Regions from separate parts of the Homo sapiens genome. Here region 1 is linked to region 2. The links come from fine-mapping of genetic effects on gene expression. Tissue or cell type: lymphoblastoid cells. Region 2 holds a variant in brackets; the other region holds the start of a gene. All regions are shown on one strand. Distances are between the middles of the regions.

Region 1 (5,382 bases), 250 kb after region 2:
CAAGTCCCTACAAAGGACATGAACTCATCATTTTTTATGGCTGCATTGTATTCTGTGTATATGGGCCACATTTTCTTAATCCAGTCTATCATTGTTGGACATTTGGGTTGGTTCCAAGTCTTTGCTATTGTGAATAGTGCTGCAATAAACATACGTGTGCACGTGTCTTTACAGCAGCATGATTTATAATCCTTTGGGTATATACCCAGTAATGGGATGGCTGGGTCAAATGGTATTTCTAGTTCTAGATCCCTGAGGAATCGCCACACTGACTTCCACAATGGTTGAACTAGTTTACAGTCCCACCAACAGCATAAAAGTATTCCTATTTCTCCACATCCTCTCCAGCACCTGTGGTTTCCTGACTTTTTAATGATCGCCATTCTAACTGGTGTGAGATGGTATCTCAATGTGGTTTTGATTTGCATTTCTCTGATGGCCAGTGATGATGAAAATGTTTTAAGAAAGTTTATGAATTTGTGTTGGGCCACATTCAAAGCCTTCCCAGGCCACATATGGTCTGCAGTACATGGGTTGAATGAGCTTGGTTTAGACTTTCCGGGATTGAGGAGAAGTTTCTTTTTAAGATGACAATCATAAAGGTATGTCTGTAGGCTGAGGTACTGATCAAGTAGACTGGGAAAATTTATAACGCAGAAGAGAGAAGAATAATTTCAAGAGCAAGATTATAAGAGATCCTTGCAGATCAGATGGTTATGATGACCTGTGTTAGTCCTCCCCCATATTGCTAAACCCAAATAATCTTGTCTCCATTGGATGAATTCTACTACTGGCCTCTTCTTGGACTTATTCTGTGGACAATTTGGCAGTAAATGGATATGTGAGTAATAGTCTCCAAATCTGGTTCTTTAGTGCTCCCACTGATTCTGACATCTTCCCATCATGCCTTCAATAAGGCTTTTTTCTGCTTGTTTCATTCAGAGTCCATTTCTGTTGCTTGGAACCAATACCCATAACTAACACAAAATCTCAGGTCACCCTATTTTTTTTTTCATTAAACACATAAGATTACTGAGGCCTTGAGAGGTTAAGTAACTTACCACTGTTATCAAGTGGCAGACTCTCCTCCAGATCATTCTGATTCCAAATCACAAGGCTAGGAACCCTCAAAGAACAGAAAGGTATTTTCAGCCTGTGAAATAATAAAAGTTAATATGCCTACCTGCTATGGCAAGTCCAACGTAGACCAAGGAAAAGCACAAGCAGATGTGTAAAAAATCTTAAGTTTCACAATGCAATTCCAAACATCTAGTCTACCACCTGGATCATACTAGGCACTCAACAAAGATTTGTTAAACACAACATGGATTACAAGAATTATGTTATATATTATTATGTATGTATACAAAATGTATTATTCTTTCCCTTATGAATTCTTACACACTGTGATTCATGGAACACTAAGGGTCTAAGAATATAACTTTTAGGGCCAGGTGCAGTAGCTCACGTCTGTAATCTCAGAACTTTGGGAGGCCAAGGTGGGCAGATCACCTGAGGTCAGGGGTTGAAGACCAGCCTGACCAACATGGTGAAACCCCGTCTCTACTAAAAATACAAAAATTAGCCAGGCATGGTGGCACGCGCCTGTAATCCCAGCTACTCTGTAATACTCAGCTACTCCTGGCTGAGGCAGGAGAATCACTTGAACCTGGGAGGCGGAGGTTGCAGTGAGCCAAGATCGTGCCACTGCACTCCAGCCTAGGTGACAGAGAGAGACTCCGTCACAAAAAAAAAAAAGAATACAACTTTTATATCATGCATCCTCCCTTTCAAACAGCCATCATTCACCATTTACTTCCCATGCTTCCAAAAGTAAGCAACACACTCCAATTTTAAACTCCATAAATACTCTCTGGTGGCATGTTTTATATATTTTTGTTAATAAAAATAATAATAGATAAGGGCCCTTATATCTTTATCTTGCCTTCTTTTTTTCAGGGTGTCAGTGACCTTTATATGTCTTCTTTCAAAGGGACTTTTTAAAAAGTTTTCCCTAATTCTCTAAAGATCTACTCAAATGTTCTCCACAGTGCTTGGATACCTGACACCAAGCTGGAATACTGGAATTGTGTGTTAAATGTGTTTTTCTTCCAGTAGTAAAACAGCATAAGGAAGCTATCTCCCTGAAAAACTTTAGAGGTTTATATGAATTAATTTAAGGAGCTTATCCTATTCCACTCTACACTCGGGGCAACCACAATTGCAGTCGTTGAATGCACTGGGTGATAACATCTCTCCTCAGCACTCTTCTCAGAGCCTTAGCTACATCTTTATTCCGGAGAGTATAAATCAGAGAATTCAATGTGGGCGTAATGATGCTGTAGAACACAGAACCAACTTTGTTCTGCAATAGAGTGCACTGGGACCTGGGTCTCATGTAGGAGAAGATGCAGGCACCAAACCAAAGAGAAACCACCGTGAGGTGGGAGCCACAAGTGGCAAAGGCATTTCTCTTGCTCCCAGATGAGCGCATCTGAATGACACTTTGAAGGATGAAGACATAGGATGTAGAAATCAGGAAGATGGGGAGGAGGAGGAGAATGCTGCTGATGTACACTGTGGTCTCATACACAGTGATGTCGCCACATACCAACTTCACAACAGCTGGGAACTCACAGTAGAAGTGGTAGACTTTCCGAGGCCCACAGAAAGGGAAGTGCATCAAGATCGCCATGTGAATTAGGGAGTTCACGGATGCCCCCAACCATGACATGACAGCCATCATCAGTCCCACCTTCTTGTTCATGAGCACAGCATAGCGCAGTGGATGACAGATGGCAACATAGCGGTCATAGGACATGACAGCTAAGAGAAAACATTCAGCACCACCTAGACACAAATAGAGGAAGTGCTGGGTTGCACAGCCCACAAAGGAGATAGATTTCTTGCCAGATAGGTAGTTGGTAGCCATCTTCAGGATGATTGTGGAGACATGCATCAGATCCATGAGGGAGAGCTGGCTGAGCAGGAAATACATTGGTGTATGAAGCTGGGGATCAATGCAGATGAGGAGAATGGTGAGGGTGTTGCCACTCACCGCAATAAGGAAGACCACCATGGTCAAGGAGAAAAGGAAAAGGTGGGTAAGGGAGTCATCGAAGAGCCCCTCAAGGATGAAGTCTGCCAGAGAGGTCTGATTCTTCTGCCACATTGTCCCCTTTCTCAATCCCTGAGGAAACAGAGAGTGGAGATAAAGAGTGTGACTGGAAATACTGGGGTCCAGTATACCCAAGGAAAAGCACCTTTTGATAGAGGACAGAACCTGTGAAAAAAATTTCCGTTTCTAATTATTCAACCTCTCTAATTATTCAAATAACCTTTTTTTAAAAGAGAGCTTAGAAATCTGCCTTCACAAACATAATCACTCTGAAATTTCAGAATATCTGGACTCTATTATCAAACTTCAAGTCTCTTCTCGTTAAGAAAGATATATATGTGTGTGTGTGTGTGTGTGTATGTATATGTATGTGTGTATATATTTATTCCCCATTTACTTCCTAGGCTTCCAAAACACACATATGTATACACACACACACACACACACACATTTGTCTTTCTTAATGAGAAGAGACTTGAAGTTTGATACTTAATGGAGTCTAGATATTCTGAGATTTCAGAGTGATCATGTTTGTGAAGGCAGATTTTTAAGCTCTCTCTCTCTATACAGACACACACAGAGAGACAGTTTGGAGAAAAGCTTGGGGGCGTTGCTTATTTTATCAGTGAGGATTTTACTAGAAAAGCTATAACACTAAGAGATTTCTCTTATACAATTGTGGAAGCTGGTTAGGCAATCTATGCGTGGCTGTTACCTTTGTGTCTGATGCTGGAACTTTAATTCCAGAGGGCAAGTAGTCAGGAAAAAAAAAATGGATATAAAGAGTGGCAGATCAAAGTCATGCTGGAACCCACAAGCATGAGCTGCAATCCCACAAAGGCAGACTGAAACCCATGTCAGTTCTTGTTGTCTCTGAAATTGGCGGTGTGGATATCCTGCAGAAGCTGGGGCGCCTCTTTTTTTTTTTTTTTTTTTTTTTGAGTTGGAGTCTTGCTCTGTCGCCCAGGCTGGAATGCTGTGGCCCGATCTCGTCTCACTGCAAGCTCCGCCTCCCGGGTTCATGCCATTCTCTTGCCTCAGCCTCCGTAGTAGCTGGGACTACAGGCGCCTGCCACCACACCCGGCTAATTTTTTGTATTTTTAGTAGAGACGGGGATTTCACCGTGTTCGACAGGATGGTCTCCATCTCCTGACCTCGTGATCCCCCCGCCTCGGCCTCCCAAAGTGCTGGGATTACAGGCGTGAACCACCGCACCCGGCCGCTGGGGCGCTTCTTAATGGCCAGATTAAAAATGCACACACCTGGCCGGGCGCGGCGGCTCACGCCTGTAATCCCAGCACTTTGGGAGGCCGAGGCAGGTGGATCACGAGGTCAGGAGATGGAGACCATCCTGGCTAACACGGTGAAACCCCGTCTCTACTAAAAATACAAAAAATTTGCCGGGCGTGGTGGCGGGCGCCTGTAGTCCCAGCTACTCGGGAGGCTGAGGCAAGAGAATGGTGTGAACCCAGGAAGCGGAGCTTGCAGTGAGTGGAGATCGCATCACTGCACTCCAGCCTGGGCAACAGAGCGAGACTCCGTCTTAAAAAAAAAAATAAAAAAAAAAAAATAAAAAAAAAAAAGAATGCACACACCTGACCCAGAAGTCAGAAAAACTAAAGGAGAATCCAAGGGAAGGCCTTTTGAAGACCATCTGGTTGGCAACACGTTTTGGTGCTGGGGCAGTGTCCTCTAGGATGTGAAATATACTCTAAATCTGCATCCAATTTATGCTGCTCTTCCTCCCATAGCAAGATTCATGGAACCAGAAATCACCAGGTAGAAGAGAGAATGAGTCCTCTCACTATAGCCCCCATAACTGTGACCCACCAGCACAATTTTAGTTTTCTATCCCTTCACTTTTAGCTTTTGCTGTTTTAGAGGTCTTAGTTCCAAAGGGAGAAATTCTTCTACCAGGTGTCACAACAATAATCCCATTTTCTGATAGTTAAGACTGCCACCATGCCACTTGGGGCTCCTCATAGAACTGAATCAATAGGCAAATAAGGTTACTCTATTGGCTAGTAAGACTGATTCTGACTAGCAATGGGAAATTCAGTCACTACTATACAGTGAGGATATGGAGAATTATGTCTGCAGTCAGATTTTCTAGGGTGTACTCTCATGTCTCATGATGTAAGCCAATAGAAAACTACAACCCAATTCAGACAAGACTGCTAGTGGCCCAGATGCTTCAGGAATAAAGGTTTGGGTTACCCCACCAGGCAAAGAGTCATGAATAACTGTAGACAAAGAGAATTGG
Region 2 (5,382 bases):
AAAGGTGTTTGGCAGAAAAAAGAAGGGGATCAAGTCTGGTCCTGCTCAAGCCGTATTTGGGCAAGGCTGGATGCCAGCATCATTTCCCTTTTCCTGTTCTCCAAGGATGTACTTTGGAGGGGATGAGGAATGACATCAGTGCTTTTTAATTTGGTTGGATCCTCCCTTGTACCATAATAGTTCTTCGTGGTGCAGTGAGTGAGAAATTGAGGATGCATTTATTTTATCACAGCCTTGTTCTTAAGACAGGGCTTGGCCGAATGTGAACTTTGTTCTTGATGAGAAGGTAAATAGCGGCTGCCAGGCTCTGTCAAGCATGAGGTGTGAGTGGGAGGCTGCTGCAGAGTGGAAATGAGGTGACTTAGTTGTTAGGGGCAAGCTGAGCCCCAGCCACAGAGGCTCACAACTGCAGTGGCTCAAACAAGTGGATTACTCCCATTCAACTGTTGGGAGGAAGCTGGTTGGGAGGAAGTTGGATTACAGACATGAGCCACTGTCTCTGGCCTAGGATTCTTTCTTTATTCATAGCAATCTCCTATTGTTGCAGGGGTTGGGGCCATTTAAAGATATGGCCCTGGCCTTCCCTGAGGAGGAGTGGAGGCATGTGACCCCAGCCCAGATAGACTGCTTTGGGGAGTATGTGGAACCGCAGGACTGCAGGGTCTCTCCAGGTAAGACTGTCTCCACCCACAGGTGAGGAACTGGGGAGTTCTGAAAGCTCAGGTCAGGGGTCCTGCCGTAGCTCTGGCGCTCCTGGCAAAGGAAGGGGACTTCATGGCAGGCGGGTAAATGGGTCCAGCACGGACCATGGGGCACGAGGAGCTGCTTTCCTGTGTCAATAGAGGAGCCAAATGATGGAGCAGGAAAACATGAGGCCATTATTCTGGCTGTATGGAGACAGGTCGGTCATGAGGACCCCCAAACACCTACATTGTGTCCATGATTAAAGACACTGAGGGCTTGAGAACAAGATACGAACAGCAAAAGATGGGGCATCTGAGCTTGTTCAGATATTTATTGAGTGCTCCCTGCATGTGGGCCCTGTGTTAGTGGTTTTCTCTTGCGGCAGGAAGTGGGCAGGACTAACGTGCACGAAAGCGTTGGAGCTCACGGTGTGCACGTAGGAGGGCACGAGGGGGCTTCGCGATGGGAGAGGTTGGAGTGGCCCGAGTCACAGAGGAAGCAGAGCTGCGCTGGGACTCAGGTGGTGGCTGGGTTTGACCTGGGCTCAGAGCCTGGGGGGATGCGGCCATTGTGTGTGACAGCAGCTCATGGGAGGAGGAGCAGCGAGAGAGAGCCCACAGGGGCTGCCAGCAGAGCGCACTGCGGGGCTTTGGGGCTGCCAGGGCAAGGGACAGTATGGAGAGTCTGCATGCGTGGAATCAGGATGCCGGCGGGGAGAGGAAACACTGTGGCTGGAGCGGCCTGTCCTTGTTCTTTGATTTTCTTCTTTTTTGTTTCATAACTTCTTTGTGAGTTGTACACTGACCACCCATCTGTACCGACCCCACCTAGCCTTTCCTTATCCTGAAATGCCTTGAAGGAAGAGCAAGATTATCCCTGTGCTTCCTTCAGGACGTAAGAGAATCCATCCTGCCCCTCCACTTGCTGACCCTGACCTTGAGCATCTCCCTTGAGCTTTCCAGGTCTCAGTTTCCTCTGTTGTGGAATGGGGCTGTTCATGGAACCTGTCCTCATGGTGCCATGAGGATGAAGGGAGGTGACATATCTAAATGTGTGGTGACCATGGTAGTGTTAGATTGTTTAGTTAGTGCTGTAAGTATTACTAAGGGATTCTTGTAGGAGCCCTCAGCCTTCACTCATTTATTCACCACAGAGGTGGACTTGGCTCTGTGGCCATTGCTGTTCTGGTCACTATGAAGAGTTAAAAATAAAGGCGCTTGCCTGTGGGGTCTTAGAGTTCAGGGGAAGAGGCCATGTGCATGTAATAGTGGGATACGGTAAGGGGCACTGGTCTCCTGGGAGACCTGGGTCCAGGGCACGGTTGACACAGTGTGGCAGTGATGCAAGTGGCAGAAAGA[T/A]GTCAGCATACTTTATGTGGAGATGTGTGATTGCTGTAACGGCAGAGGATGACAGAACAAAGCAGGGGCTCGAGTGATGAGCCCCAGACAAAGGTGCCAGTGTCCTGGTGCCAGGGTCCCCCTCAGGGATATTCCCCTCCCAGTGATGCTGCTGTGTGGGGTGAGGAGCCCCTCGCCCCCATTCTCAGAAGATTTTCATGCTCTCCTGGCCATTTCTGACTGTTCTGGAGACTGGTTCTGTCCTTGTCCCCTCACCAGCTCAGTGTCTCAGAACTCAGAGCAACTCAAGCCCATACCTGAACATTTCTGCCGCCAGGTGACACGAAGGCCTGTTTCCCAAGTGTACCATTCACTTGCTGTCCCAGCTTTCAGGTCTTCCTGGGATTCACACTCGGGTTGTCCTGGTGCTTGTACTGACAGCTGCTTGGGGCTGGGCCTGAGCTGCTTCACCTGTAAAGAGACTGAATGCACAGGGCAGGGTTGAGCTAGGTGGCTGCCCAGATCACTTCCAGTTGTTCGTCTGTTCTCATTAGCAGACGGTGAGGTGCAGACCTTGTTGTCTGGGTTGTAATTGCAGTAATGTCCACAAGGACTGGAGCAAGAACTCACAACAGGATTTGGAATCACAGAGGCAAAAAGTAGCAGGTGCAGAAACCTGAATGCAGGACTCTGCAGGCTGGTTCCCAGGATGGTGAGGGTCCTGGAGTGAAAGATGAGTGCTCAGAGGAGTAAGGAGGAGGCAGGAGTGAGTAGAGTGAGGCCGCTGAGGAGTCCGTGAGGACTCTGGGTCCTTGTTTAAAAATTTTTTCTGCGCAGAGTAATGTGATGGAGGTTTTACTTGAGGAAAATTGGATTGACGGCAGGGTACGGCCAGTCTGGAGGGTTGAAATAGTGTAGGCACTGGGGTAAGAGCAGGAACCAGGCCAGTGGTCATGTAGAAGGGGGTTTACTGAAATATGCTTCCAAGGATGGGCCACAGATTGGCCAGAGGGGAGGAAAGAGAAGAGTCAGAGAGGAGTCTACGTCTTAGGATCCTGGCTAAGGGCCTGGAAAAATTATGTTACTACTGTCAGAAAGAGAGGGAAGCATTTTCCTAAGAGGGAGGAAGAATGGAAAGTTCCATTTGTTGACTTTGAGATCTAAGTGGATGGTCCCTGGAAGTAGCTGCAAGTCAGGTACATGGTCTGGGAGTTAAAATAATATCATGAACCATTGCATTCCTGCTCCATGTGTGCAGTAAACTTCATGAGTGTACAATCCATTTTGAAGGTGGTGAATGTAAGGCTCAGAGAGGTTAATTGATTTTCCCATGATCACACAGCAATTGAGCAGCCAGTGCAGCACTCAAAACGGGTTTCTCACTGCTAGGTCCCTTCTCTTCCACTACTGTGTCTTTCTCCCAGTGTCTCTGTTTATACTTAGGTATCATTGTATTTATTTTTCCCCCAGCTTTATATTTTGAACTCTTATTATACAAATTTTCAAACATACAGAAAAGCTAAGACTAGTACAGGGAACACACTTAGGTCTTTATCTACATTCACCAATTGTTAACATTTGCCATATTTAGCTGTATAATGTGTGTTTTGTTTTGGAATGATATGGAAGTTGGAGGCATCTCAATCTTTCATTTGTAAATACTTCAGCATTTGTCTAACAATGACATTCCCAACATAGCCCAGTAGCATAATTTCATCTAAGAAAATAAACATAAATTCGATATATGTAACATCTAGTGCATAGTCAGCTTTCCCCAAGATCTAGTTGTGGTTTGTGCATTGCATTTAGTTTTAATCTTACTATTCATAACACCTCAAAACTGAAAACTACCCAAATGAACAACAGTCAAATTAATAAGTAGGTTGCAGTCTATCTGTATCTGTATATCTATCTATATATACATACACACACACACATACATATACTCAGTGGAATACTGTATACCAATGAAAAAGAATAAACTACAGCTTCACACCATGATATAGGTGAACGTCACAAACATGATATTGAGTAGAAGAAGCCAGAAACAATGTGTGAGACAATTACCTGAAGTTCAAGAACAGGCAAAAAAGTCCAGACAATGTGTTCCCGTTGGTATAGTATATATGTATACTATATACGTATATCATGTATATGCTGTATACGTATATCTCGTATATGCTGTATACGTATATCTCGTATATGCTGTATACGTATATCGTATATGCTGTATACGTATATCTCGTATATGCTGTATATGTATATTGTATATACTGTATACATGTATATGCTGTATATGTATATACTGTATATGTATAGTATATATATGCAGGGTATAGTGATGGAGGAGATGTAAAAGGGGCTTCTAGGGACTGGTTATGTTCTGTTTGTTGAACTGAATGCTGTTTACGTGGTTGGGTTCGTTAAGAAAATTCTTTGCATAGTGTGTGGTGACGCACACCTGTAATCCCAGCACTCAGTGAGGCAGAGGCAGGAGGGTCACTTGAGCCCAGGAATTCGAGACCAGCCTGGGCAACATAGTGAGGCCCCCATCTCCACAAAAAGGAAAAAAAGGGTAACGTGACATTTTTTAGCCAGCGCTGGATCCAAAAAAATAAAAATAAAATCTTTGCGTGTACAAAACATAAATGGCTTGTACACTTTTATTTTCATGAAAAGTTTACAAAACAAAATCCAAGCTGATAAGTATGTATTTCATATTTTATCAAACCAGGAGGCATATACTGTCAGGTTTTTTTTGTCTTCTAGTCATCTTGCCTAAAAGGACTCTTCCGCTTTAAGCACCACTTATTTCTCCTTTTCTTTTTTTCTCTTTGCCTCTTTGTTCCCCAATACCTTTTCTTTTCTTTTTTTCTCCTCCCCTTTCTGTTACTCTTCCATAAACACCTGTTCCGTTAATTTAGAGAGAATATAAGAAGGATCAGAGTGAGGATGAAGGAAGGGTGAAGCTGAGCATTTCAGCAGCGTCATGGTCTCAGTCCTGATAAATATGCTACCTAGGGGCGTTCTCCTGCAGGAGCCTCAGTGAAGCCTGCTTCATTCATTCAGCCAGCAGTTAGCAAGCATCTTCCCTGAGTCAGTCCCCTGCCAGGCTCCTAGGAGACCCAGATGAATGAACCTGGTTAGGCAGAGGGAGCATGTGGGCAGGACAGGGGACTGAGCAGGCACCTGGAAGGTCTGGAGAGCTGTGTGCTGCCCTGTGCTACAGCAGGTGTAGAATCGTTTGGGGAAGGCGCAGGACATCTGGATGAATGGAAACAGCATTTCCAACAAAGTCACATGTAAATAGGTACAGAATAATAAAGTGCTAGTTAGGTGCACAGTGCTGAAGAGGCCCAGA

Direction of the effects. Alleles are on the strand shown, and positions count from the first base shown. SD is a standard deviation of normalised expression in the study named.
With allele T in place of A in region 2, the expression in lymphoblastoid cells of the gene that starts at base 3,172 in region 1 is lower (large effect, 1.5 SD a copy in GENCORD).

Evidence for each region. PIP is the estimated chance that this variant, and not a neighbour inherited with it, causes the effect.
Region 1: OR2AE1 starts here. The variant in region 2 is the best candidate, but not a certain one, in a credible set for the expression of OR2AE1 in lymphoblastoid cells (GENCORD, PIP 0.55).

Annotation. Positions count from the first base shown.
Region 1 is chr7:99,873,862-99,879,243 of GRCh38, forward strand. It overlaps OR2AE1 (olfactory receptor family 2 subfamily AE member 1), which reads right to left and starts at 3,172. Exons shown (of 1, transcript NM_001005276.1): 1 at 2,201-3,172. The coding sequence starts at 3,172. The coding sequence ends at 2,201.
Region 2 is chr7:99,623,510-99,628,891 of GRCh38, forward strand. It overlaps ZSCAN25 (zinc finger and SCAN domain containing 25), which reads left to right. Exons shown (of 8, transcript NM_145115.3): 7 at 548-671. Among named protein-coding and RNA genes, the nearest start is that of ZSCAN25, 9.3 kb to the left of the region's middle. The variant T/A (reference allele first, on the strand shown) is at 2,043.